Linked DNA regions of Homo sapiens. The protein of the gene in region 3 purifies or fractionates together with the protein of the main gene of each other region. This does not show direct contact. Each region holds a gene or a part of one and is shown on either strand. Other genes may lie near its edges. The genes, in order: ASF1A, CABIN1, UBN1 and SMARCA4.

Region 1 (5,546 bases), on a different chromosome or scaffold from region 3:
CTGGGGAGATCAGTTAGAAAATTCTAAGCAATATTCCAGATAGGAGATGACATGAATTCAGCCTCCAGAAATGAAAAAAATGTTGAGACTGACTAGATGTAGGAGATAAGGGAGTGAAGCTGACTGAGGTTTTTAGCCTAGGACACTAGGTAGCGATTTTATGCCTTTTTGTATCATCTACCTGTGTTAGGCATACAGTAAACAACAGTCTTCAATTTTCACAAGCTAAGGCATTGGCTAAAGTGCTCATCTAGGCCCAGGAATATTCCTTGGTGCCCTGGCAACAGGTAAGCTAATTTGCTGGGACTTGATCCATTTACCACCCAGAATGGCTGCCTCAGATGCCTCAGCCATCACTGCCTGTGTTCCCCAGTCTGGCTCCTTCCATCCGGTCGTCTCATTACTACCTGCACCCTACCACGGATGGGGCCCTGCCCTTCGCTCATGCTCTTAGTCTAGTCTAACTCAGTTTACTTTCTGCATTCCTCAAGGTTCACCTTACAATAGCTTGATTTAAAACAAGGTCTTTGACATCTGCCTAAAGCAATCCTTACCTTCACTGGTTTCCACATTATGTGTGGTTTAAAGAGCATACTATATTGTAGAGTCTAGCAAAGTAACTATTCATAATAGAGGATTATTAATATTTTTTGAAAATCTGCTATGTAGCTATTTCCATCTCATTTTCAGTTTTGTTTTGTTTTGTTTGAGACGGAGTCTCACTCTGTCGCCAGGCTGGAGTGCAGTAGTGCGATCTCAGCTCACTGCAACTTCCACCTCCTCGGTTCAAGTGATTCTCCTGCCTCAGCCTCCCAAGTAGCTGGGACTACAGGCACCCGCCACCATGCCCAGCTAATTTTTGTGTTTTTAATAGAGATGGGGTTTCATCATGTTGGCCAGGATGGTCTCAATCTCTTGACCTCATGATCCACCCACCTTGGCCTCCCAAAGTGCTGGGATTACAAGTGTAAGCAACCACACCCAACCTCATTTTCAGTTTTATACTAATTTACTATTAGAATACCTGTGGGGGTGGTTGAGTGGGTATGAGAATATAAGTATCCTGGGTTGAAGAGGGAAACTGGTATAATAAACATTTGTGGCCAACAGTCTATGAGGAGATCATTTAATACTTACTAATTTAGGTCTGAAAATTATGACTGAAAAGGTTAAAATCAATTGCTGACTATAAAGGTTTTATAATGAATAGTGTATAATCCTTTCATGAACCACCATGCAGTGTAGCCAGAATTTCTTCCTTTTACAAGTGTAGTCATGCTTTCAAGTATCAAGGGTCCTTACATATATTGTGGCAAAACATGAACTGTCTTTTCCAGCTTATTATAAGTCAGTCAGAAATGAGCATTTTCCTTCCCAGTATGATTTCCAAGTTTTTCTTGTTGCATCCTCAACTGATGGTTCTAGGTAACTGAAACTCCAGTCTTGCCTGCCACTAACAGCCTTTTGTGTGTGTGTGTTTCTTTTCTTTTTAATTTATTCTAGGCTGATGCACCTAATCCAGGACTCATTCCAGATGCAGATGCAGTAGGCGTAACTGTTGTGCTAATTACTTGTACCTATCGAGGACAAGAATTTATTAGAGTTGGCTATTATGTAAATAATGAATATACTGAGACAGAATTAAGGGAAAATCCACCAGTAAAACCAGACTTTTCTAAGGTAATGTTCTTACTATTCCTTTTTAACTACTTTTACTATGCAATTTTTAAAGCAGTTGCTATTGCAATTTCATAGTATACTATTAAAATGGCTTTGAGATAAAATAAATATGAGGTCCTTATGCCAACTGGGCAAACTAATTATTGTTCCATTACCATGGATGACTTCAAACCCTACCTTCAGATGAGTCATTAGTAATTAATGTAGGCAGACACCTTGAGCATTTCTGGTTTAGAAAAATGAAAGTACCTCTTTTTTTTCTGAGATGGTTTCCTGCTCTGTTGCTCAGGCTGGAGCGCAGTGGCATGATCTCGGCTCACTGCAACCTCTGCCTCCTAGGTTCAAGCGATTCTCCTGTCTCAGCCTCCCAAGTAGCTGGGACTACAGGTGTATACCAACACGCCCAGATAATTTTTGTATTTTTAGTAGAGGTGGAGTTTCACCATGTTGGCCAGGGTAGTCTCCAACTCCTGACCTCAAGTGATCTGCCTACCTTGACCTCCCAAAGTGCTGGGATTACAGGTGTGAGCCACCACGCCCAGAGAAAGTACTTCTTGTAAGACAGGCCTTTGTTTATGGCTTTCTTTATAGCATTTCCCATATTGATTATTCCCATCATGATTCTGTTCATTTCAACCTTTAGGACAAACAAATGCATTTTTGTTGTACTAATTATTCAATGATGATATTTTTGTGTGTAACTCTTCCCAAAATTATGAAAGTTTTATGTTTGTTTTTCCTATGAATACGGTTATCTCAAAACACCTATACGCTTTATCTGCTATTCTTAGAAGTTAAACTAACAGTCTTAAATATTTCTGGTACTGAAAACAGCTTAAATTCTGAGTGAGAAGCTGAAATCTAGGATTCAGCATTCTTAAAGATACTTAGTATTTTCTGATTTTTCACTGGGAACTATAACAGTTTGGTAACTGGTGATTTTGTGAGAGTGCAGAGTAAATGAAGTTGAACCATGCAAGAAAAATTACATGACAATAGAATAGAATGTTCTCATGTTCTTTCTGATAATAAGGCCGGACTATTTTTCACCCTTGTTGTACCTTCCATTGATCCAATTTGTTATCCCTGAAGCACCTTATATAGCACAAAAGAAACAGGACTGTTTCTAAGAATGAGCCATCTTTAAAAGGTGTAGGAAACCATTAATAATAAGTTGTATTTGACAATTTTTCATTTTCCTTTGAAAACATACCAATCTAAACAACATAGTAGCTTGTTAAATAAAGCATCTTCTGAAGCATTCATTTTCAAAAATGAGGAGATTCTTTCTTTTAGAAAACAGAAGTATAGGAGTTAAATAGTTAAAAAGCCAGATGAATCCCCTCAGATTCTCCGTATCTTGTTTCTGTTAATCTAAAATAACTTCTTTGCTACAGCCCTAGTCGTTACATCTTATTAGTTATATTTAAGGTACTTAACTTGAATTATACCTTTGTATATGAACTTAGCCCTTTAGGAGTACTAACATGAACCATTTTATTAAGCTTCTATTTGTATATGGTGATTTAACTTTCTTAGTGTTTACCATTTGTATGTTTCCTTTTTCCTCTAGCTTCAAAGGAATATTTTGGCATCTAATCCCAGGGTCACAAGATTCCACATTAATTGGGAAGATAACACAGAAAAACTGGAAGATGCAGAGAGCAGTAATCCAAATCTACAGTCACTTCTTTCAACAGATGCATTACCTTCAGCATCAAAGGGATGGTCCACATCAGAAAACTCACTAAATGTCATGTTAGAATCCCACATGGACTGCATGTGACCACCTACCATCCCTTTAGTACAAATTAAGCTATTAAAAATACACAGAACTATTTCCCTGAAATTCCGTAAGTACATAGTCAAAACACAATGTGAAGAATTTGTTTAAAAACATCCTGTAGAAAGTTTATAAGAAAACCAGTATTTGAACAAATTGTGGAATATAAATACAACTATTTTTAAGTAATTTTTTTCTCTAATGTGTTATTTTATTTGTTCTGAAACTAATCTGATTAAAGCATATATATTATTTTCTTCTCCTTTATATGTAATGAAAGCACTTATAAAGAAACAGGAATCATTAGACCAGGTTGTAAAGATGTCTTGGCCTCCCAGACAGTCTTTGGACCACTATTTTACTGGCCTTTGAAAGAACAAAGTTTACTTCAACTAAAATGTTTCTTCCTGTGAAGACATATGGTATCATTTTAATTTAAGGGGCAGATTTCCATTCTTTTTTGGCATGTCCTTAAAAAGAGGATTTGAAATCAACTATATGCTACCAAGAACTTTAGGATCCAATTTTCCAAGCCACCGTGAAGCCTCTTATGGCTACTATTATAGTTCATGAGATGTTGGACAGCATTTGGTTTGTTTGGTAAGAGAAGAACAAATATGGCTAATTGTTAATAAGGTCCCCTGGCTATGGTTTTTGTTCTTATAACAGAGTTTAGAATATCAGAGCATTTCTTGAATCATACATCATTATTGTCCAGTGAATTCAAGACCAAATACAATATCGGGAGAAAATACAAACTCCCTGTGTTTAAGAATAGGGGATTACAATGGCTCAAATTGGTTCATTTGATTTCTAAAAATACCATGACCTTTAAAAATTCTTTTAATAGATCATGTTATTGGCAGTATTTATATAAAAACCATGGATTTAGAAAGGTATATTTAGCTTTATTATAATAGATACGTTACTATTTTGGAAATATATATATTTTCACACCTGTAGTACTCTTCCCCATTTCCTCTGACACTCATGCAGAATGAGATCAGGCATATTTGTGGTTGACATACTCTAGATAGCTTTTCCAACAAATCTTTGAAAAGCAATCTTGGAAAGGAATTCATTAACTAAATGGGGTAAAAGGTTTCTTTTTCTTTGAGAGTTAAGTCCTTCCTCAAAAAATTTTCTTATGCTCCATAAAATTGAGGTAGAATATTTTCATTATTCTTGCAGCTAAGCAAGACAGCCATATGATGCAGGTTATGCAGTGCCTTCATATCTAAAACTTTTATACTGCACTTTTTAAAGCTTTTATGTTGAGGAAAGGAAAAGGGCATTTGTCTAAACATGGATTCTGAGTTGTATATATTTCCTATCATTCTAAAAAAGTGAATTTGTGAAGCAAAGTTTTGCCAGATGTTAAACTTTGAATTTAATATACCAGATTATTAAAATATTGTCCATTAACTAGTTCATAGATTTTAAAAGTAAAATACTTCTGACTGTTAAAACTATATAAAGAAAATCTCATTTGTCTAATTGCAATTAAAAGAAAAATGTTAAAATATTAAAATGAAAATAAAAGCATTACTTTCCAACAAAGAGCTCAGTGGTTAATATAATAGGAACAACATATGTGCTTATTAGAAATAAAGCATATACAGCCAAATCACCAAATAAAGCCATTTACTGCTGAGTTTTTATTCTGACTAATTATAACAATCTATTTGTAGTGACATCAAAGGGTTAGGTTTTTGTATCAAGTTGTAAATGGACAACCAATTTTCACTTAAGCTTGGGACATGCGAACCATTACCTTTTGTTATCTTAAATTTTATCACTCTAAGAATTTTTTTAATGACTGAAAATAGATTTAGACTTCAAACATTAGAAACGTAAGAAACTGTAGCACATAAGTTTTTTTTCCACCCGGTCTAGCGTCATTTGCCAATACTGTATCTGAAGAACTATTTTCCACCCTTTTGCTCATAGTAAATAGCTGTGTCCTAAGAATATAAACATGAACCAATGACTTATGCCACTAAGATGGAGGCATTAAGGGTATTATTTGGGCTGAGAAAACATTCCAGAGGTCTGAAGAAGTATGCATGCATTTATTTGCCCA
Region 2 (8,008 bases), on a different chromosome or scaffold from region 3:
CTTGTGGGCCTCCAGCAAGAGCTCAGTACCAAGGGCAGCCGCCACACGGGCCTGCCACACTGCCAGCCGGGGCAGTCTTGGAAGAGGTCGCAGCCAACGGCAGTGGGCTGGGAAGACAGGGCAGCTGGGGTTGGGGCTCAGCCCCATGCCCAGAGTCCCCCCAGAGGGCAGGTGGGTAGGAAAGCTTCACCTGCATCACCTCCGTCAGCACCAAGTCTTCCAGGGAGATCTGCTCCATTGCCAGGAAGGGCCTGGCCACCAGCACCCCCCAATCCAGGTGCTGCAGGGCTGGCATCAGCCTCCCCAACAGCCGCTCCAGCTGTGCAGCATCTGCAGGCTGTCCGGAGAAGTGGGGCAGGAGAGACTGGGCTGGGAGGAGAGGAGCAACTTAACCCAGACTCTTGGAAGCCTCTTGGGCCTCCTCTCCATCCCTTCCCGGCTGCCACTCATTAGTGATGTCCTCTGGGGCTCTGTGTTCAGAAGGTTTCTAAGGATTCATTCAGGCTTAGGGGAAGGAGTACTGTGATAGATTAGTTATGTCTGCTGAGGACAGTGGAAGTGAAGCTAATATGTAATATGTACCAACTGGTGCCTTCCATCTCTGGGGGTCCAGGCCCCTGCCCCAGCCTGCATGACAGGGCCTAGGAAGCTCACCTTGCACAGGTAGACATTGGTGGCAGGCAGCTGGATGGTGACATGCTTCCACGCCAAGTACTCATCCACGCAGGTGCGGGCTTGCAGCTCAGGTGGGTACCAGTGTCCCCGTATCTGGTACTTTCGACTCAGGTATAAAACGATGACCATGCTGTGGGCAGGGGGTGTCAGAGATCTTTTCTCCAGCCTGTCAGGGCCAGGTGGCTTCATTGCTCATACTCAGGGTGATTTGACCAGGTTTTCTCCCCACCTTCACCTTCAGGGGAGGACCTCCCCTATACTGCAACTCCCTCCAGGCAGTATCTCCCCACGACCAAACCACTCTGTTTCTCCATTTCCAACTCTGATCCTCCCTGGGCCCATGTTTCCACCTCCCCTCCCAGTTACCATACCATCCTGCCCTCTGTGCCCAGGCCCCACTCCCTGGCATCAGGGTCCCCACTCAGAGTGCCTGCCGTGTGGGCCCTGCCCAAAAGGTCTCCAAGTTCCCTTCCTAGTGCCCCAGAACACTAGGTGCCCATTTTCTATCCTCAGGTAAGCCCTGGGAGGTGGATACATTATTCCTCCCACTCCGTTTTACAGAGGAGAAACCTGGCACACAAAGTTCTGTGATTTCCCCAAGGGCATGGATTGAGGAAGTGGTGAGCTGGGATTGAATGTGGAGTCTCCCCTGGGTCTGCCCAGCTCCTAGGACTCTGAAAGGATGAGCTGGGGACATTTGGGGAGGAGCCAGCCTCAAGCCTGGGCCTTGCCCGCTGGCTTCAGGTTGTCCAGGTTTATCCGGGTGACCTACGTCCTTTCCCCACCTGGGCAGCTCCAGCTGGCTCAGACTCTAGCCAGGTTCCAGCCTCCAGCTTTAGCCCAAAGGTGCCCCTGGGTCCAGCCTCTGCATCGGAGCTACACAGGCTGAAATGAGGAAGGGGCCTCAGTGATTTGGAAAGATCTCCAAGCCAAGGAAAGATCTCCCCTCTCGCCTCTGCCTCCCCCTACAACTCTGAGCCCCAGAACCCAGGCAGATCCTGGCTCTGACCCTGGGTGGGCACCAGGTCACCATTACCTCTTTGCTAGTAGGAAGTCGCCATCTCTGAGGGCAGGCACCTTCCCCAGGGGGTTCACCTTCAGGAACTCAGGCTTCAGGTGCTCCCTTGGTGGGCAGAAAGGAGAGAAGGCTCAGTGTAGGGCCTGGTCCTTGGCACCCACTCCATGGGGCCCAGCCCAGCCACCTGGCTCACCCCAAGCCAACTCCACCATCCACAGCTCAAAAGGGATGTCATTCTGTCTTGCAAAAGTGGATAGTGTGTCAGGTCCAGGAAGAGCTCAAGCCCCATTGCTGCTCCTCTCACCTGCCCTCCCCAGAATTCTGGACCTCCAGGAGTTGCTCAGCCCTTCTCCACTAGTTCTGAGCTGTTTCCTCTCCATAGTCTGCTGTAGTGGGCCAGAGCACAGGGCAGATTTGTCTTCAGGGACTTTCTCTGGGCATTCCTGGGCAGAGAACTTCATCTTCTCTGTTAACTCTTGCTGATAATTCTCTGTAGCTAGGCACCTTGTAAAACCCATGTCCCAGAATGCCAAACCTGGAAATGCAATGTCAGCGCCGAAACTGCATTGAAACTGAATGAATGAGGTCCCCACCCTCTTATCTAAATATCCTATCAGTCTGTTGAATGTCAAAGTATGTAGGGGTGGTGTGGGGGAGCCTATAGGGAGTCTCCATTTCTGTAGCTTTCCACATGTTCCATGCAGAATTTTCCTCTAATGACCCTTGGACACCGTGGTGGTCACTGTTTCCCTGCATAAACCTTTGATGATCCTTATCTTTAGCGTACCAGTGAAACACCAAATTCAGATTTTCAGTCTGTGCAGTCTATGTAGTTAATAAAATCAATTTCTAATGGAATATGCCTGTGCCTGGTGTGTTTGTACCTAACCACTGCTAAGGACTTTCATTGATAGCTAGACCTTGGAGTTCCTTCCCCTGGACCCCTGACCCAAGTATTTTGCACTCATTCCTCTGCCAGTGTGTTTCATGGTGTCCTGCTTCCCAGAGTGCCTCAGGGAATGCTTGCATTGGATATGAATGAATCGTTGCGGTCACCATGGATGGGATTCAGGCCTAACTCTCACCAAGACCATAAGGCCACAGTCTTTGATATAGATTCCCCATGTTAAATCTGCCATCCTCAGTGTAGTGAGAGTGATATTGAGAGAGAAAAGTTAGGTAATTAAGGTGGGTCCTTGGTAAAACTCCTTTAAACAGAGGAACAGCCTGAAAAATCAGGCTTCAGGCACAGATAAGGAAACTTGCACAAACCTCTGGCTCACTCAGATAAAGGAACAATGCCCAACACAGAAACACCTTTGATCTTTGTGCCTAAGGCATGCCCACAGCTACTTTGATAAGGGAACAAGACCCAGCATAGAAATGCCTTTGTCCTTTGTATAACCAGTGGGCTTCCAGGAAATAGTCTCTTCTCCTTTTGTGGACATGTACACGGTGGGCTACAGTGGGTTCCAGTGGGCACTTTCCTTTCTTGGACGTGCTTTAGAATGTGAGCCTCTGATTGGTCCTGGGCCAGGCTATCACTTCAGCTCCTGATTGGTCCCTCAAGGTCCAGGGGCCAAGCTGAGTAGTGCTTTCTCCAAGACCAGTCAGTACATTCCTTCCTTTCCCAGTCCATAAAACCCCCTGACCCAGCCTCATAATGGGCAACCTGCTTGGGCCCCCCGCCAGCTGCAATGAGCTTTCTTCATTTGCTTATTAAACTTTTGCTTCAACCTTACCCTTTGTGTCCACACTCCCTAATTTTCTTGGTCGTGAGACAAAGAATTCTGGGTGATACCCCACAATGAGAGACTGGTACATTGTGGTGCACGGGCAAGACTGCAACAATATGTTTTCTGCTTGCTTGTTTGGACTGGCCTCTTCCTAACTCTCCAGAGTGCTCTCTCCCCACTGTGGCCCTGAGCTTTGCCTCACGGTAACACTGTGCTGCATGACACTCCAGCATGATCTGCATGTTTCTCACCTCCGGACCTTCCCCACACAACTTTCTTGCTGCTTGGACCACCCTTCCCACCTATTTTCAACTGTTTCTCTCCAGCGCATCTTTCATGATAAGGCTTGAGTGGAAGCTGTATCCGAGGCTGAAGGTTATCCATGCAGCTTTGAAACCATCTGTTTATGCTTCTGTTTACCCCCCAAATACTGTTTACCCCAATACTCAAAGTCAAGGTTGGTGACTCAACAATTTTCAGAACTTCTAGCTTATCAGTATAGCTTTATTGTACTGAACTGAGTTTTTCACCATGCTGTTACTGTCTTTGAGGTTAAAAAGCCCCCAACATTCACTCCTATTTGAATCATCTGTGCAAGACTCAAGCAGCTATGAATTCAACCACAGTGTAAAGTTCTTCCCTACAATGCTTTATTGTTATTCTAGCTCCCAAGAGAGTACCATCTTTCAGCCCAAGACCCTTGACAGAACCCCTTCAACTCTGTCGCCTTTTTTCATCTCTGGAATTCTGACACCACCCATGACCCCTCTTCTTGTTCATTTACTAGGTTTTGTTCCTTTTTTTCCTTTTGTTTCAATATCCTATTGTATCTGTTCCTTTTGGGCTTCACATCCTTTTTGGAAAGAGAGGCACAGGTAATATAATGAATGAGGATGCTCCTCCTCCCTGGTTCCCTCTAAGTCAAGTTTCTCCAACGCGCTGGTCTGCTTGGCTTTGAATGCGGCTCAACACAAATTCATAAACTTTCTTACAACATTTTGAGATTTTTTGGTGATTTTTATTTTTATTATTTATTTATTTATTAACTTATCAGCTATCCTTAGTGTTAGTGTATTTTATGTGTGGCCCAAAACAATTCTTCCAACGTGGCCCAGGGAAACCAAAAGATTGGACACCCCGCTCTAAGTGTTCCCCAAGTTTCCACTGTTTTCAGAGCACATGTCCCAGGTAATAACACACAGCCCATCATTTAGTGACTGCTCAGGGTGCAAGCTGTGGAGAAGAGAGTCCGACTACGAGCTGGTGCTCTAAGCCTCCAGCACGCTAGGACTGACGACGGGGATCCGGAAACAACAAGCTCCACTCCCGCAACACACACACACACACACACACACACACACACACACACACACACACGCACACGCACACGCGCACGCGCGCACACACGCGCACACACGCGCGCACGCGCGCGCGCGCCGCCCAAGGGTAGCCGTCTGCAGGGCCCCAGCTAAGCAGCCCGCGGAGAGCGAGCGGCGCGTGCGCCCCCGCTGATTGGCTGGCACAACCGGCACCGGAGCCAATGGGAGCACGCCTTGTTGTCAGGCGCGCAGCCGGACGGCGCGGTGGTCGGGACAGACTGGCCGTTGCTGTGGAGACGCCTGGTGAGTTCCTGGAAGGCTGGTTTGAAGGCGGTGCCGGGGTGGGGGTGAGGCTCAGCAGAGCCCGGGGCACAGGCCGGAGGGGCTGCAGGCGCGAGGCTGGGTTACGTGAGGAAGCTGGGGGTTTCGCGGGCAGCTTTAGAGCCCCAGTCAGGGAAACCGAGGCCGGGCTTCCTGGCTGCCTCGCGAGCCTCTTCATGGCTCTCGCCGCCGCCCTGAGGTGCCTAGAATGGGTTCCGGCCTCCGGGGAGGTTCCCAGTAACCGCAGGAGCCACCATTGATTTGGCGTCTGCTGGGTGCAAAGCCCAGCGCGCTAACCCTTTACTCGCGACCTTTCGCTTCACCTTCACAGCAGCCCTGCGAGGTGAGTGTTGTTATTGGTGCCATTTACAGGGGTGGAAACTGAGGCCGCGGGTAGGTGAAATGATTTGCTCCAAGTCACCCAGTGGGTGAGCGCGACTCCAGACTGAAAATTTTGACCGTTCTGCTTCACTGCCTCCCCGCAAGAGGCGGGCCCTGGCCAGATGGAACTCACCTGGCATTCCCAAGGTATCTGCACAAGTGGCTTTGGGAGTCACTTAACTCTTCAGGACCTGGGTTATTACAGGTTATAAGTGTGGGACCGTCGGATTCCATGTGGCTAAGATTCTTTCTATGTGATTATTGTGGTTAGAAATAGAATATGCTTAGAACAGTCTCGTTCAGCGGTCGGCAAACTTTTGTTGTAAATATATCAGTGTTTACATTGTTATATTGTAAGTATAATGAGTATAATAGTATTCATAATAGTAGTTTAGGCTTGGGGGGTCCATACTCTGTCTACTTAACTGTAGCGATGTAGTGTGGATACAGCCAAAGACAATACATAACAGACTAGCTGCGTCGCAATAAAATTTTAATTATAGGGACCGAAGTTTTAATTTTATATATTGTTAATATAATTTTCACGTGTCATGATTTTTTTTCCCAAATATGAAAAAATGTAAAAACCATTCTTTGCTCGTGGGCTGTACAAAAAGGGTGGGCTGGTTAGCTTGCAGAACCCTCATCTAGTACAAAGCCTCATACATGAGGGGAAACAGACTGAGAGACTGACATCTATGTCAAGTCAGTCACACAGCCAGGGCACTGCCACCACTGAGCTTAAGACATAGGCTTCCCACCTTCCAGGCCAGGAAACATCCCCAGTTATCACTCTGGATCAGGGTGCTGAGGTCTGAAGGTGTGCTACTCTTTATCGTGTTCTGAGGCCATGGAAACTATATTCTAAGGGGTTTGGAAACTTATTAGCTTAGACTAATAAGCCTGGTGAATGTGCTGCTATCTGAGGAAATGCAGCTGCTGGGCTGGGAGTCAGAAATGAATAGATATTTTTCTTTTTCATGATTATTCAATAGCTTTTGTGTGTGTGTGTGTGACGGAGCCTTGGTCTGTCGCCCAGGCTGGAGTGCAGTGGCATGATCTCGGCTCACTGCAATCTCCGCCTCCCGGGTTCAAGCAGTTCTCCTGTCTCGGCCTCCCGAGTAGCTGGGACTACAGACACCCGCCACCATGCTTGGCTAATTTTTGTATTTTTAGTAGAGACGGGGTTTCACCGTATTGGTCAGGCTGCTCTCAAACTCCTGACCTCAGGTGATCCACCCGCCTCGGCCTCTGAAAGTGTTGGGATTACAGGCGTCAGACACCGCGCCCGGCCTCAATAGCTTTTTTTTTTTTAAAAGCTCCTTTTAGTGAGTTTCTTGGATTTATGGTGAACAATACATAAATGGTTACCATCCTCACATTGCTTACAGATGATAAATATATAATCAAAATGGTTATTTCTTTTTAAGCTTTTTTTTTTTTTTTTTTGAGATGGAGTCTCGCCTGTGGCCCAGGCTGGAGTGCAGTGGTGCGATCTCGCCTCACTGCAAGCTCCGCCGCCTGGGTTCACGCCATTCTCCTGCCTCAGCCTCCCTAGTAGCTGGGACTACAGGCGCCTCTCACCATACCCTGCTAGTTTTTTGTATTTTTTAGTAGAGACGGAGTTTCACCGTGTTAGCCAGGATGGTCTTGATCTCCTGACCTCATGATCCGCCCGCCTCGGCCTCCAAAAGTGCTGGGATTATAGGCGTGAGCCACCATGCCCGGCCTCTTTTTAAGCTTTTTAAACTAATTTTAGATTTAGAGAAAAATTGCAACAATACAAAACGCTCTGTTATGTCCTTCACCCTGCTTTCCCTAATGTTAACATCTTACATAATCATACAATTATCAAGAACAGAAATCTAGTGTTGGTACAGTATTATTAACTACATTACAGATGTGATATGAATGTTACCATTTTTTAAATTAAGGTTGTGTTTTCATTCCAGGACCCTATCCAAGATCCCATGTTGCATTTAGTTATTTCTCCTTGGTCCATAACACTTCCTTAGTCTTTTCTTGTTTTCCTTGGCTTTGATGCTTTTAAAGAGTAGTGATCAGTTATTTTGTCTAACGTCTCTCAATTTAAAGGTTTGTCCAGTGTTTTCTAATGATTGGGGTGAGATTATGCATTGTTGGCCAGAACACAAAGACACATTATCTTTGTGTCTTTCTCAGTGCATCACATGGAGTCCAAGATATTGGAATGTCTTATTACTGGTGATATTTACCTTGATCTATTGGTTTACTTGGTGTCTACCAGGTTTCTACACCATAAAATTACTATCCCTTTCTAATTAATAAGTCTCTTGGGAGAGATACATTGAGAGGACACAAATTCTCGTTCTCCACAAATTTGCTCCCTGACTTTAGCATCCATCTGCAGATCTTTGTGGTGTTTGCCTAAAGGTAATTATTTCTCTCTTTCCTTCTACATTATTAAGTCAAGTTCTACTGAAAGGAGAACTACCCTCTCTCTCTTTTATTTATTTATTTGATTATTTATGTGTCAGTGTAGGCCATGGATATGTATTATATTCTATGAGTTAAAATTC
Region 3 (7,026 bases):
GCTGGGAAAGGGTCTTCTGGATCTTCCCTGGAGGAAGGGAAGTTGCCTCCAGGGTTTTGTTTTTGTCATTTTTTGTCCCACTTCAGTTGATGTTTGGCCTCCCATCTCAATATGCACTTTCCTTTTTTTTTTTTTTTTTTTTTTTTTTTTGAGATGGAGTCTCGCTCTGTTGCCTGGGCTGGAGTGCAGTGGTATGATCTCAGCTCACTGCAAGCTCCACCTCCCAGGTTCACGCCGTTCTCCTGCCTCAACCTCCCGAGTAGCTGGGACTACAGGTGCCTGCCACCATGCCCGGCTAATTTTTTGTATTTTTAGTAGAAATGGGGTTTCACCGTGTTAGCCAGGATGGTCTCAATCTCCTGACCTTGTGATCTGCCCACCTTGGCCTCCCTAAGTGCTGGGATTACAGGCGTGAGCCACCACACCCGGCCACACTTCCTGTTTTAACATACAGGCTGCTATGAGCATTTGAGAGATGGGTTCATCTTGGGTCTTTCCTGATGTTCCTGAAGAAGTGTCATTTGCAGGTAGCAGGGCTGACTCCTTATTGGAACTAAGTGCCAGGCTTCCATCTCAGAGGCTACCTTGTACGAAGTCACTTCCTGCGAATGAAGTATTTGTGTCATACATGGGACAGAGAAAGTTAGCTGGAGTGATTTTCTTGATTGGACTCGAATCATCTGTTGTGCGGATAGATCTTGGAACCTTTGAAATTGCTGTCCTCTCTACGTAGGCTGGACTCATACGAAGAACGTTTTTGTTGAGTTTCTCTGGACAAAGACATGCTGGGTCACTCCACATTTTATTCCTGGAATGGAGGGACTAGGCAATAAGGAAAGTGCTGTGCCCTTTAGGGAAGCATCACCATGAGAGGTTTGAGGCAGAGCCATACATTTTCTTGGTAAAGGCCAGACTCAGCCTTTGGGCAGCCAGTGTGTCCCATTGAGATCCTCTCACCAGGAATTTGGCTCCCCAATCCATTGACCTTTTTTTTTGTGTGTGTGGGGGGTGGGTGGGCATGGTGGGGGGGCGGGGACAAAGTCTCACTCTGTTGCCCAGACTGGAGTGCAATGGCACGATCTCGGCTCACTGCAACCTCCGCCTCCCCGGTTTGAGCGAATCTCCTGCCTCAGCCTCCCGAGTAGCTGGGATTACAGGCGTGCGCCACCACGCCTGGCTAATTTTAGTATTTTTAGTAGAGACGGGGTTTCACCATGTTGGCCAGGCTGGTCTCGAACTCCTGACCTCAGGTGATCCACCTGCCTTGGCCTCCAAAAGTGCTGGGATTACAGGCGTGAGCCACTGCGCCTGGCCAGTTGACATTTAATGAGGGATAGCTACTGAGGACCAGGGACACTAGCAAAGTTCTGGAAGCAGAGTCCCAGCTTTCTGGGGCATGTACAGATGCCTGGTGTTCTGTGTCTTTCAGAACTCTGTTTAAGGAGAGCAGACGAGGCCATGGGCACCTGACTTCAATCCTGTGAGTGTCTTGGTATTTTCACATCTCGGGACAAGTGTTGTTTTTGGTCTCCTCTGGATATTCTCTAAACTTTTCTGTGCTCATTCCTTTGAACAGGGCCAAGAAGAAAGTTATGGCCCCTTCTAAAATCAAGGTGAAGGTGAGTCAGTTTGCTCGGGTCACATGTCAGCTATGCCCATCTCCCTACAACTATGCTCTGGAAACAGTCAAGTGACTGTGGAAGCTCATTGATCTTTGCTCGTCTGGGGACAGCTGCTCAGGATGACATTCTTGAAGTCATAACAGGACAGAGACCCAAGCCACTTAACCCCCCTCTAGCCTTGGTTCTACAAACAGTACCCAGCTGGCCCAGTTCCTGGGGTTCATGTGGGATTAAGTGGGATCTTCTTGGCAGCCCTCTGAGGAGTCAGTAGTCCCTGAAGGTGTGAACGTGTTACACTGTGATCTTTGTATGGAAGAAATACACTCTAGCCAAGTGCAGTTTAGCTTGGAGCCACAGCAGAAAGAAAAGGCGACTTTACTGAGCTACCAGGCAGAAATGGAGGGCAATATAGTGGCTGGAGAATAGACACTGTGAAAATTACCTTAGATGTTGCAGAAACCTCTCAATGTAGTAAAAATTGCTGTTTATCAACATTTTTCCCAGTTCTTAGTGTGGTGCCCTTAGCCATCCCTAAGCAGACCGTGAGAATGAGATGTGCAAATCATTTACTCCTAAGTATCTGTTGAGCTCCCACAATGTCCCAGACACACTGTATTAAGCACCAGGGATGCAGGAGTGAAGGATTAGACCCCATTCCTGTTCCCATGAAAAGCTCACTCTTCTTTGAACCCAGTCTGAGGAGATGGGTGCTGGGAAAAATCAAGAAGGGAAAAATAGCTGCTTTAAGGCAATTCTCATGCCATGCCTTGGTCTGATTGCAGCTAGGAGTGCGCTGAGACAGTGGGAATGCCAGTAGGCAGAGTATCTCTTCACGAGAGTCTTAACGCTTTTCAAAACAGAAGAAAGTTTCTCCTGGCGGCTTGTTTGTACTTAGCAACGAAGCATGCCGGGGTAAACCCAGCCCTGGCCAACCAGATACTCACCAGGGGTGATGAAGTCATGGCATCTAAAGTCAAGGCGGGCACAGCTCCTGCTCTGTCCCACCACTTGTCTTGTAATTATACAGGAAGGCCCAGTTTTTTTGACTCGAGTTCACATGTTTGTATCCTCACAACAGGCCAATGTTGGCATCTTTGGACCTTTCTAAACATCAACATTTCTGTTTTCCTTTAGGAATCGTCTACGAAGCCTGATAAAAAGGTTTCTGTCCCATCAGGACAGATTGGTGGCCCCATTGCTTTGCCCTCAGATCACCAAACAGGAGGCCTGAGTATTGGGGCCTCGAGCAGGGAGCTCCCATCCCAGGCATCGGGCGGCCTTGCTAACCCTCCTCCTGTCAACCTGGAGGACTCATTGGATGAAGACTTGATCCGCAATCCAGCCTCCTCGGTGGAAGCCGTGTCCAAGGAATTGGCTGCATTGAATAGCAGAGCAGCTGGGAACTCTGAATTCACACTGCCTGCACCCTCAAAAGCACCTGCAGAAAAAGTTGGAGGCGTTTTATGTACAGAAGAAAAAAGGAACTTTGCGAAGCCTAGTCCTTCTGCTCCACCACCAGCTAGCTCTCTGCAGTCACCCCTCAATTTTCTGGCAGAACAGGCTCTGGCACTGGGGCAGTCCTCTCAGGAGAAAAAACCAGAGAGTTCTGGCTACAAAGAGCTGTCCTGCCAGGCTCCCCTCAATAAGGGCCTGCCAGAAGTACATCAGTCCAAAGCTAAGCACCACAGCTTGCCACGGACGTCTCACGGGCCCCAAGTGGCAGTTCCTGTGCCTGGCCCCCAGGTCAAAGTCTTTCATGCCGGCACTCAGCAGCAGAAAAACTTCACGCCCCCATCTCCATTTGCCAATAAGCTCCAAGGCCCAAAGGCTTCTCCCACACAGTGTCATCGTTCCCTCCTGCAGTTAGTGAAGACAGCGGCCAAAGGCCAGGGCTTCCATCCCTCTGCACCAGCCACCTCAGGAGGCCTGTCAGCCTCCAGCAGCAGCTCTCACAAGACCCCAGCCTCGTCCTCTTCTGCCCTGAGCCATCCAGCAAAGCCACATTCAGTCAGCTCTGCAGGCTCATCTTACAAGAATAATCCCTTTGCCAGCTCAATCTCCAAACATGGGGTTTCTTCTGGCAGCTCTTCCTCGGGAGGAACACCAGTCCAGAGTTCTGTTTCTGGGAGCCTGGTCCCTGGCATACAGCCTCCCTCCGTGGGACAGGCCACCAGCCGACCCGTCCCAAGTTCAGCAGGGAAAAAAATGCCTGTTTCCCAGAAGTTGACTCTGGTAGCCCCTCCAGGCGGTCCAAACGGAGATTCCAGTGGTGGGACCCAGGGAGTGGCAAAGTTGCTGACCTCGCCGTCCCTAAAGCCCTCTGCAGTTAGTAGTGTGACATCGTCTACCTCCTTGTCAGTGAGTATCTGTCATAGCAGCCTGCCCTGCCCCACTCACAGGGGCCTTGGGGATGAGGTTGCTTGCCTTGCCCCGGGTGGAGAGTGAGATCTAAAACCACAGGTCAGGTAGGAACAGTGGGCTCAGACGTAGGAAGGGAGACTGGGCTCCCTGTTCTCAGGTATTCACTTTTCTGGTGACAGGAAGCCCAGGATGGCCTAAAGCTTCTTCTGAGGAGGGCAGAGGGACCTAAAGGATGGCCAGCACCAAGCACCATGCCTCTTCGGAGGCTGTCTGTGTGGCACAGAATGAGCAACAGCCCTTGCCTTCCGTGACCCCTTGCCTCTCCATCTCTCTAAAGGGGGCTGGAAATGCTGTCTTCTATCAGTTGAGTCATGTGGAGGTGTTCATGGACCAGGAATAGCAGGACCTTCTAAGAGTGATTCTGTTGGTTTTTGAAGGACAGAGTCCAATAATTAATGCATCTCGCTTGTGTGTAATCACAGCAGGTTCGGGAAGAGGGAGTGAGCATTTTCTTTTCTTTTTTTCTTTTTTTTTTTTTTGAGACGAAGTCTTGCTCTTTCACCAAGGCTGGAGTGCAGTGGCGCTATCTCGGCTCAGCGCAAGCTCCACCTCCCGGGTTCACGCCATTCTCCTGCCTCAGCTTCTTGAGTAGCTGGGACTACAGGCGTCCGCCACCACGCCCAGCTAATTTTTTGTGTTTTTAGTAGAGATGGAGTTTCACCATGTTAGCCAGGATAGTCTCGATCTCCTGACCTCGTGATCTGCCCGCCTCGGCCTCCCAAAGTGCTGGGATTGCAGGTGTGAGCCACTGCACCCGGCCTCTTTTTCTAATATATAAATGAAGTGGTTGCAAAGACAAAACCATAGAAAGGTCTGTTGGAGGTCTCACCTCCTTTCCTGCACCCACCACCTCTGTAAGGTAACTAAGCTCTTTAGTTTCTGGTTTATTTTCCTCTTTTTAAACAAAAGATTAATAAATATAAATAAAGGTATATATGTATGTGTGTGTATGTATGTATATAAATATATATACACATATAAATATCCATGAACATTTATGGATATCTATATTACATTTTTCCCTTCACAAAGGAGGCTTTTTTTTTTTGAGACAGAGTCTGGCTCTGTCACCTAGGCTGGACTGCAGTAGCGCGATCACAGCTCACTGCAACCTCTGTAGGAGACATATTTAATATCCTGCTTTTAAAAAAATTATGTTCCCTGGAATCCATTCCATGTTGGTTCATAAAGACTGTCCTGGATCCTGTCTTTGGGGCTGCAGGGTCGGAGGGTGCCTCCCAGGGCCATCTGACATGGATGTGTATGTCCTCCTTTGTGGACACACAAGGAGGATCCTTTGTGTTGCCAGGTTTGGTGTGAGTGAGCCACGAACAGGACTGGAGTTCTTACCGCTTGCTGTGTTTCTTCCCTAGAAAGGAGCGAGTGGGACTGTGCTGCTGGCCGGCTCCTCTTTGATGGCTTCACCCTACAAATCCAGCAGCCCAAAGCTGTCTGGGGCCATGAGCTCGAACTCCTTGGGAATTATAACCCCTGTCCCTATTCCTGTCCATGTGCTCTCCTTCAGCGCTGACTCCTCTGCCAAAGCAGGGGTCTCCAAGGATGCCATCGTCACAGGCCCTGCCCCCGGGTCCTTCCACCATGGCCTTGGCCACAGTAAGTGCTTCTTTGCTGCCTCTGGTCACTCAGGAACCTCTAGATTGTGGCCAGGGGTCCTGCTGTTGTGTACTCTGGTTCCTGTGTTTGAGTCTGGTGTGTGACTGTGGGGAACATCTCCGGGAACTGTGCCAAGCCCCCACTGCCCCTTTGGGTGTGGTGCCCAGACTGGCCTGGCAGGTTATCGGGGGCTTTTGGCTGCTGGAGCTGCTTTCCTGTTCCTGTCTTCAATGTGTGTGTTTTGTTCTTTTCTCCCCTCCTGTTTTCTCTCAGGTCTTCTGGCTGGCTTGCACTCCAGCCCGCCCCATGCAGCGCCTCTCCCACACGCTGCGGTGCCCACCCATATCCCGCAGAGTCTGCCAGGTAATCACCCGACGGTCAGTGTGCCACGCGCACCGTGTGCCTTTGCCCTCTCCACCCCTAGGTGCTTTGCCGCTGCCAAGGGTCTTGGTGTCTTTGCCTTGACGCTGTTGTTGTTTTGGTTTGTCCTTTGAGGCTGTGCTTTGTCAGTACTCAGGGTGACACGCACTTCTACTCTTGGGGTTTCCTCTGGTCCCCACTTGGAGCTGCCGCCAGGTCAGCCTCAGCCTGTGTGATCACAGGGAAAGTTGCGGGGGGCAGGGTGGTGCGCTTTTGTGTGCGGTGGAGGAGTTCCTAACCCTCGGCTTGTTTTTTTCTCTTCAGTTTAAAAAAAAAAAAAAAGGGAAGGTAATGGTGCATCTTCTCCAAGGGCTAATTGGGTACAACAAGGTCTTGGAATGCAAGCTGCTCCACTGTCAGATGTGATTGCTTAACAGAAGGCTCTCTAAACTTTGTTTCCATTAAAGGGAAAATCCAGGTAGCAGCCAGAGGCCACAGTGCAAGACTTTGAGAGGAGCAGCTTTAAATCTGTCCAAGTGTGAAAACTCCATCAGAACAGATTTGTGGGAGCACAGCAGGCATGTGGTCGGTGCTCCCCTTAGCATCTTCTGAAATAGGGAACTTCTAAAAGCCTCAGGCTTGAGGCTGCTCTGGTAGCACCTGAGAACTGGGCTCAGGTGCCCCGGGTTGGTACCTTTGCATTGAGTGCGTCTGCCTCACCCTATCCCGAGTCTGCGATTCTTGGGTACGCCTCCTGGAATTCTGGCATGGGAAGTCTCATGGTGTCTCAGCTTTGACCTAGCATTGTTCCTACTGTAGACCCGCTTCAGACATGACCAGGGTGCTACTTGGATAAGGGGAGAGCCGCTCGTATGGAAGCCAGCCGAGGTAACCCTGGCGAACTGGTGCCAGGTGGAAGTAAGGACCCTCTGTGCTGCACGTCTCCCAAGTTACATCTGCCTCATGATGTGCTGTGGCTCCCTGGCACCATGGCGCATTATAGTAAACA
Region 4 (7,026 bases), on a different chromosome or scaffold from region 3:
CCTTTGTAAGGGGCAGCCCAGACTCCTTTAAGCCCCTAATGGATGTGGATGCTGTGTCTAGATTTTCACCATTGCAAAGAACCTTGCTAAAAGCATTCTTCCAGCTAAAGCCTCCATTCAATTCCCCTGGGGTAGTAAGCCATTTGCAAGAAGAGAGGCGCCTAATGAAAACATCACAAATTCTTTTTGATGTGTTTTTTTATACTGAGTTGTGGAACAGGGTCCTGTACACCTGGCTTCAAGGCTGGGAGGCCTGGCTTGGACATGTGGTCAGCCATATCACGTCGTCCCCCTGCCAGCCTCAGTGTCCACATCTACAACACTTGGGGTTTGGCTGGAGAGAACATGAGAAGCCGAGGTGGCCCTTCCTTCTGGGTCTAGCAGAGCATGGGTGTCTCCAGTGTGGCATTTGCTCCTGGGGCTTCTTTATCGGGCAAGGGGACAAGGTCTGGCTTCCCGGAGCATCCCTGTTCCAGCCCCGTGTTGTGCCGGCCATGTGACTCACAGCTCCTCTCATTTTCATGAGTGTCTGGGTTTGACGAGAAATACATGTGCCACCCTGGTGATACGCCTCCCCAGCGAGGGTGGCCGGGCTTATTTCAGTTGGGGGAAATGGCTTTGCTGAAGCTTTGGGTGGGTGACGTCTGCTTAGGATGCATGTCTGTGCCCTTGAACCCGGCGCCTGGCCTGGAGGCGGGCGATGCACCTCCTGCCTTACCTGCCTGCAGGGTTCCAGGTTTAACATCCTGCGCCTTCTCTCCTGCCTCCTCCACACTCCAGGCTGGACCTGTACCGAGCCTCGGGTAAATTTGAGCTTCTTGATAGAATTCTTCCCAAACTCCGAGCAACCAACCACAAAGTGCTGCTGTTCTGCCAAATGACCTCCCTCATGACCATCATGGAAGATTACTTTGCGTATCGCGGCTTTAAATACCTCAGGCTTGATGGTGAGTATGAGCCAGTGAGGCGTTTCTTACAGGGTTTTGTTGTTGTGGCTGCCACAGAAGCTCCTCACTGGCATTCCCTCCTGTGAGGCAGGGTGAGGCCCAGGCGCTCTGGGTCCAGTGGCCAGAGTGGGCCTAGCCACAGGCTGAGCATCTTGGGCACTCGGCACTGGGACAGGCCGTGGATTGGACGCCGGGTGTCCTGACTCCTAGGCTGACAGTCTTTCCACGACAATGCTGGGCGCACTGGGGAAGGGGTGCCCTGTGCACTTTTAGCTGGAAGTGACAGAATTCCATACCATGTGGACACAGGAAAGAAAGCACCAATAGGCTTACATAGCTCTAACCCCAGGAGGTTAAACATCCTTCAGGCACAGCTGGATCCAGGCATGCAGGTGATATTGGAGAGACTTTTCTCCAGCTCTTTGCTCTGCCTTCTTCCATCTTGGCTTCCTTTCCACCTGCTCAGTGTCCCCAACAAAGGCAGGTCCCAGGCTGGCTCTCATTTAGCTGCTGTGAGCCGCATGCCCATCCCTGGGCCATTCGTAGCAGCCCAGTGACTGCCACCTTGCCACAGGTCAGGCCTGGACCTGGAATCAGACTCTGTGGTGAGCACGGAGGGAGGGAAGCAAGCACTGCCAGGCAGGAGCAGCAGCTGCCGTAGAGAGGCTCTCAGCCCAACCCCCTGCCCTGCGGTCCCTGATGGGAAAGGTCACCGCCTGTGTTTCTGCGCCTGCCTGCCCCAGCACACGGGAGCTCAGGGAGGAGAGGCTGTGAGATGCCGACAGGGCACGTGAGACATGTCTGTCAGTCCCAGTGGGTCAGGGAGCCCTGGAGTGAGTTCTTCGTGGGAGTTACTAGAACTGGGCTTACGAGAAACACGAGCATGAGCTGCTGAGACAGACACGGCTCAGCCAGTTTGTTGTTCCCTACACGACCTCCCAGAGCCTTTGTTGAAGCTCCTGTGCAAGGTCTGTCTCACAGCAGGACACCCCAGACCTCCATACCCCTTGTCCCGTTGATCACTTGGACCTGTGTTTGCTGGGCCAACCTGCCCAGGTGCCACCCGGAGTGTGCCCTGTGTGTCCCTCCAAACTGCAGGTCCTCCCCGGGGTTCTGTCCAGGACCACTCTACAGACACGAGTCTGTTGCAGGGGTCTCCCCGGCTTGCCTTCTTCCTTGGGGGCTTCCCACTTTCAGCTTTGAGGCTGAAAACCAAAATCCTTCAGGGTCCTCATGGCCGGGCCACCCCCCACCCTTTCCTCTCCTACGGTCTCTCCAGCGGCTTCTCCCGTCCTCGAGAGGGCCAAGGCTTCCTGAGGGCCATCCCGTCTGTGTCGTGTCCCTGACTCCCCCAGGAGAGAGCCTGGTTCCCACCCATCCCAGTGCCCTTCTGCCTACTCCATAAGGACAAGGACTTTGGTCAGTTGAACTACAGATGTGTCCTCTGCATGTGATGTGGTCATGGCCACAGGGCCAGAGAATCCATTGCGAGTAGAGGAAGGGTAGGAGCTCAGTGAAGTCTCCTGAGACTGCATCTCCCATGGGTGGGCTGGCATCTGGGAGCCGGGTGGCCCCTCACCTCAGCCCCTCCTCCGAGCTGGAGTAGCAGGGGCACATCTGGTGCCTGAGAGAGGGTGGGACGGCAGGTGGATGGCCAGGCTACTGTGGGCTTCTGCACCGTGCCTGGGCATGTGTAGGCTGGTGGCAGGAAATGGCCAGTTTTTATTTCTTCTTTTTTTTGAGACGGAGTTTCACTCTTGTTGCCCAGGCTGGAGTGCAGTGGCATGATCTCAGCTCACTGCAACCTCCGCCGCCTGGATTCAAGCGATTCTCCTGCCTCATCCTCCCTGGTATCTGGGATTACAGGCGCCCGCCACTACGCCCAGCTAATTTTCTTGTATTTTTAGTAGAGACGGGGTTTCACCATGTTGGCCAGGCTGGTCTCGAACTCCTGTCCTCAGGCGATCCACCCACCTCAGCCTCCCAAAGTGTTGGGATTACAGGCATGAGTCACCGCGCCCGGCCTGCCAGTTTTTATTTCATCACCAAAATGACTTCAGTGTTCAGGGGCACCTCTGTCCGAACTCCCAGCAGCGCAGGGAGTGTTGACATTGCCTTAATGCCCACAACGCTGAGGGCATCGTGGGTTGTCACCCAGGAGACCTGCTCTGGCTCCTTGACTTGGGTTTTCTGGGGCATGGGGACACTGATCCTGCCAGAAAGGACACGAGCCCCCTTTATAAGGTCTCCATGCTTTTACCGTAGAAGATTCTCTTTGTGAACCACAAAACTTTTTGAGACAGGGCTGAAGGCAGGTGCACCCACAGTCACTGTCCACCCACCCCCAGGTCCCTTGTGTTGCGAGCGGCGGTGTTGCCGGCATTGGCCGCTGTGTCTTCCGCTCCCCATGGAATGGCACAGGGTAGAGTAGAGGAGAGAATCCAGGGCTGTGGTGGTGGTGGCTGTGCTGACGCTGGACGCTGTGGCCTAGCTGTGGGCTGGGTGCTGGACTCTGTGCTCCAGGCCCACCTCCTCTAGTTCTCCCAGCGGGGCCTGTTTTCATTTCTGGGATGTGTGGAGAGACGTTTTGTGGTGAAACACTGGAAATCCAGTTATTCGCCAGTGGCCCACAGGCCCGTGTGGAGAGTGCGGAGCCAGGGATCTGGGGATGCTGGCAGGTGCTGATCCTGCTCCTGCTCTCAGAAGCAGGTGTTCCTTGGTGTCCCCACTCTACCCCTGAGGTCACCCCGCTGACCCTGTTCTCCTCTGTGCCCGTCAGGAACCACGAAGGCGGAGGACCGGGGCATGCTGCTGAAAACCTTCAACGAGCCCGGCTCTGAGTACTTCATCTTCCTGCTCAGCACCCGGGCTGGGGGGCTCGGCCTGAACCTCCAGTCGGCAGACACTGTGATCATTTTTGACAGCGACTGGAATCCTCACCAGGTAAAAGCGGGCCGGGCCCCAGGTCGAGGAGAAGGAAGGGGGTGCCTGCAAAACCTCGAGGAGACGGCCCTGGCTTGAGGGTCCTCCAGCCTCCTCCACATTGTCTTGGACCCCAGGAGCCGGGAGGAGCTGCACCCATATCTCCATAGGTCATCAGGGAGAAAAGAGGCGGGGTCCTCCTGTTTCCCAAAATACAAACAGCCTTTCCCTCTGATTGGGAAAGCAGTGTATAAGCCATCCGTCGGTTTGGTTTTTCTTAAATCTTGGAATGGCACCCATGAGGAGGTGGAAAGTATCCTGATCAATCTGCGCCGTCACTGTGGGGCGGCCCCTGCAGTGTGCCCTGTGAGCACACACACTGGCGCTTGTTCAGACACAATTGGGGGTAAACTCCATGCCACTTCGTTTACTTCCTCCTCTTGTTCCATAACCATGTACCCCTCATGGGCCTCGGCATCGGTGGATACCAGGTCATGCTGTTACATAGCTACAAGAATTTGAAAATGAGTTAAACTTTTCTCTGTGTTTCATTATAAGACTGATAAGTTCTTATTGTTTTTAACATGTAAACACCAGTGACAGTCAGGAGTCCCTTTTCCCTTCCTCTCCAACCGTGCTCTCTTCTGAGCCTCTGCCAGCCCATCTGCCTTCGCACATGTATGTACTGAGATTAACACAGATGCGGCGTGGCCTAGCATGTGCCTCTTCCACCAAGCAGTGGGTGTCAACCGCCGAGTGCACATCGGAAGCTACCCAGCCATCTAATCGGCCACCAGGCGTCCCGGCAGATGGCCACCCCTGGACGTCTGCTCTCAAACTCTGGTTGGCAGGCATCCGTCTTTTCTGTTGATCAGCCTGGTCACCAACCCAGCAGGGTCCCTCTTTCTCTCAGAGTGCTTGTGCAAACACCCTAGGTCTGCGCAGCCCTCAGACATGGGGTCGCTCCACCCCAGACATTGTCCTCTTCGTGTTCTGGTTGCTACTGCCAAAGTGGTTTCACTCCTACGCTGGGGTGTGAATGTACCCTGCCCTTCCCTGCAGCGTGAGGGCAGCAGCGTTCTCAGTGTGTAAATTGTCGCTTGTCTGATGGGTGAATGCCGTGGTGGTCACTGGTGGCCCCTTTTACGATCAGGCTGGGGTGTAGCTTCTGCCCAGACCCTGGTGACCAGCCAGTTTCTTAGGAGGTGGTTGAGTTGTGTGTCCCCGTTGGCAGGCCGGCAGCAGGCGGAAGCTGCACCTCAGGGCTGGGGGCGCGTTGGGGAGGGCTGGCCCTGCCAGGAAGTGTGCTGACAGGGCAGGAGGGCTGAGCGGCAGACACAAGGCACTCCTGGTCCCCACCAGCTGTGGCCTCTGCCACCCCATGGGTGCCAGTCTTAAGTTTCAGAGCATCACTGGTACTCACCCTGGTCCTGCAGCTCCTGGGCCCAGAGACAGGATTTCGTGTTAGCCTCCTCGTACTGTGCTGGGGTGATGATAAAACTAACAACCCAGGCTGGACGCAGTGGCTCACACCCGAAATCCCAACATTTTGGGAGGCCGAGGTGGGTGGATCAACTGAGGTCAGGAGTTCGAGACCAGCCTGGCCAACATGGCGAAACCCTGTCTCTACTAAAAATACAAAAATTAGCCAGGCATGGTGGTGCATGCCTGTAGCCCCAGCTACTCAGGAAGCTGAGGCAGAAAAATCGCTTGAACTTCGGGAGGCAGAGGTTGCAGTGAGCTGAGATCGCACCACTGCACTCCAGCCTGGGCGACAGAGCGAGACTTTGTCTCAAAAAAAAAAAAAAAGAAAAAAAGCCCATCCACGGCACCTGCATTGTTGGGAGCTAACTGCACCAGTCACTGGGCCACACTCCTGGTGCTTATTCACTCATTCGAGGTATGCAGTAGCCACGGGTTGGGCCCCATGTAGGCTGAGGGAGTTTTGAGGCTCACAGAGGTGAGACCTGGTTCCGGTTCTGTGTGCACTGTGAGAGTGGCAGGGCCCACAGCCAAACCAAGCACTGCCACAACACGGCCGAGCTTCGGCCCCCTGTTGTAAATGGTGCTCGACTGTGTAGGTCCACGCTGTGGGGAGCTGTGCCGCTGCCACGGGAGCTGCTTGAGAATATAATCCCCTGGGGGGTTGGTGCTTTCTTCCCGAATATCTGTGGGGTCCCAATAAGGTAGAAGGTGGCACTTCTGGAGGAACGTGATGAGAGTCCCCTTCCCCCGAGGGACACATGGCGGCCCAGGCTCCACCAGCTCTGTTTTCATGCGGCGGCAGGTCAGGCTGGGCAGAATTGTCAGGCCGAGGGTGGCACGCACAGCACACCTCTCCAGCTAGTGTCAGAGGCCACCTTCCCTTTTATGACCTCCTGGGCTCCTTTGGGACTGACTGGCACCTCTTCCCCCAGGACCTGCAAGCGCAGGACCGAGCCCACCGCATCGGGCAGCAGAACGAGGTGCGTGTGCTCCGCCTCTGCACCGTCAACAGCGTGGAGGAGAAGATCCTAGCTGCAGCCAAGTACAAGCTCAACGTGGACCAGAAGGTGATCCAGGCCGGCATGTTCGACCAGAAGTCCTCCAGCCATGAGCGGCGCGCCTTCCTGCAGGCCATCCTGGAGCACGAGGAGCAGGATGAGGTGAGCCCAGCACCGGCCCCGACCCCTCCCCAGCGTGAATGGTGGACGCGTGAGCGGCTTTCATTTTTGTTTTTTTACCTTTTTTGCACTCTTATTTTTTTTGCATCCCTTTGGAGTAAAGGGAGTGTGGGCTGAACGGAAAGAGGATGAGTACTTGCTTTTTCTTTGAAGTGGTTTTTTTTTCTAAACTGCTGGTGAAAGACGCCGGATTGACAGCCCTGGAGACTGAAGTCCTCTATTTATCCACAGAGCAGACACTGCAGCACGGGCAGCGGCAGTGCCAGCTTCGCCCACACTGCCCCTCCGCCAGCGGGCGTCAACCCCGACTTGGAGGAGCCACCTCTAAAGGTGAGAGGGGTAGTTCAGTCTCCATGCCCATTCAATCCTCGGCTTCTCGGCTGAGACGGCCAGCAAGGGCCCTGGTCCCACGGAGCGTGCGTGTGCGTGTGCGTGTGTGTGCCTTTCGCTGCCGTGTGGGTCCCCATCCACCGCAGCCGTGCCGGGACCACCAG

The links.
Region 1: the proteins of UBN1 (region 3) and ASF1A purify together in Homo sapiens (affinity purification with mass spectrometry; 7 studies listed by BioGRID and IntAct, with this or other methods). This does not show direct contact.
Region 2: the proteins of UBN1 (region 3) and CABIN1 purify together in Homo sapiens (affinity purification with western blotting; 6 studies listed by BioGRID, with this or other methods). This does not show direct contact.
Region 4: the proteins of UBN1 (region 3) and SMARCA4 purify together in Homo sapiens (affinity purification with western blotting; 2 studies listed by BioGRID, with this or other methods). This does not show direct contact.

The regions. Positions count from the first base shown.
Region 1 is NC_000006.12:118,904,149-118,909,694, forward strand, and holds the end of ASF1A (histone chaperone ASF1A), read left to right. Parts: intron 1-1,503; coding exon 1,504-1,680; intron 1,681-3,253; coding exon 3,254-3,466; 3' UTR 3,467-5,023; downstream 5,024-5,546. UniProt on the Homo sapiens protein: Histone chaperone that facilitates histone deposition and histone exchange and removal during nucleosome assembly and disassembly.
Region 2 is NC_000022.11:24,006,317-24,014,324, forward strand, and holds the start of CABIN1 (calcineurin-binding protein cabin-1), read left to right. Parts: upstream 1-4,987; 5' UTR 4,988-5,051; intron 5,052-5,053; exon of another isoform or gene 5,054-5,412; intron 5,413-5,441; exon of another isoform or gene 5,442-5,597; intron 5,598-8,008. UniProt on the Homo sapiens protein: May be required for replication-independent chromatin assembly. May serve as a negative regulator of T-cell receptor (TCR) signaling via inhibition of calcineurin. Inhibition of activated calcineurin is dependent on both PKC and calcium signals.
Region 3 is NC_000016.10:4,871,455-4,878,480, forward strand, and holds part of UBN1 (ubinuclein-1), read left to right. Parts: intron 1-527; coding exon of another isoform or gene 528-531; exon of another isoform or gene 532-714; intron 715-733; coding exon of another isoform or gene 734-764; exon of another isoform or gene 765-824; intron 825-1,429; coding exon 1,430-1,480; intron 1,481-1,576; coding exon 1,577-1,619; intron 1,620-2,756; coding exon 2,757-3,980; intron 3,981-5,416; coding exon 5,417-5,657; intron 5,658-5,930; coding exon 5,931-6,020; coding exon of another isoform or gene 6,021-6,151; exon of another isoform or gene 6,152-6,398; intron 6,399-6,484; exon of another isoform or gene 6,485-6,595; intron 6,596-7,026. UniProt on the Homo sapiens protein: Acts as a novel regulator of senescence. Involved in the formation of senescence-associated heterochromatin foci (SAHF), which represses expression of proliferation-promoting genes. Binds to proliferation-promoting genes.
Region 4 is NC_000019.10:11,027,004-11,034,029, forward strand, and holds part of SMARCA4 (SWI/SNF-related matrix-associated actin-dependent regulator of chromatin subfamily A member 4), read left to right. Parts: intron 1-780; coding exon 781-947; intron 948-3,726; coding exon 3,727-3,890; intron 3,891-6,286; coding exon 6,287-6,514; intron 6,515-6,763; coding exon 6,764-6,862; intron 6,863-7,026. UniProt on the Homo sapiens protein: ATPase involved in transcriptional activation and repression of select genes by chromatin remodeling (alteration of DNA-nucleosome topology).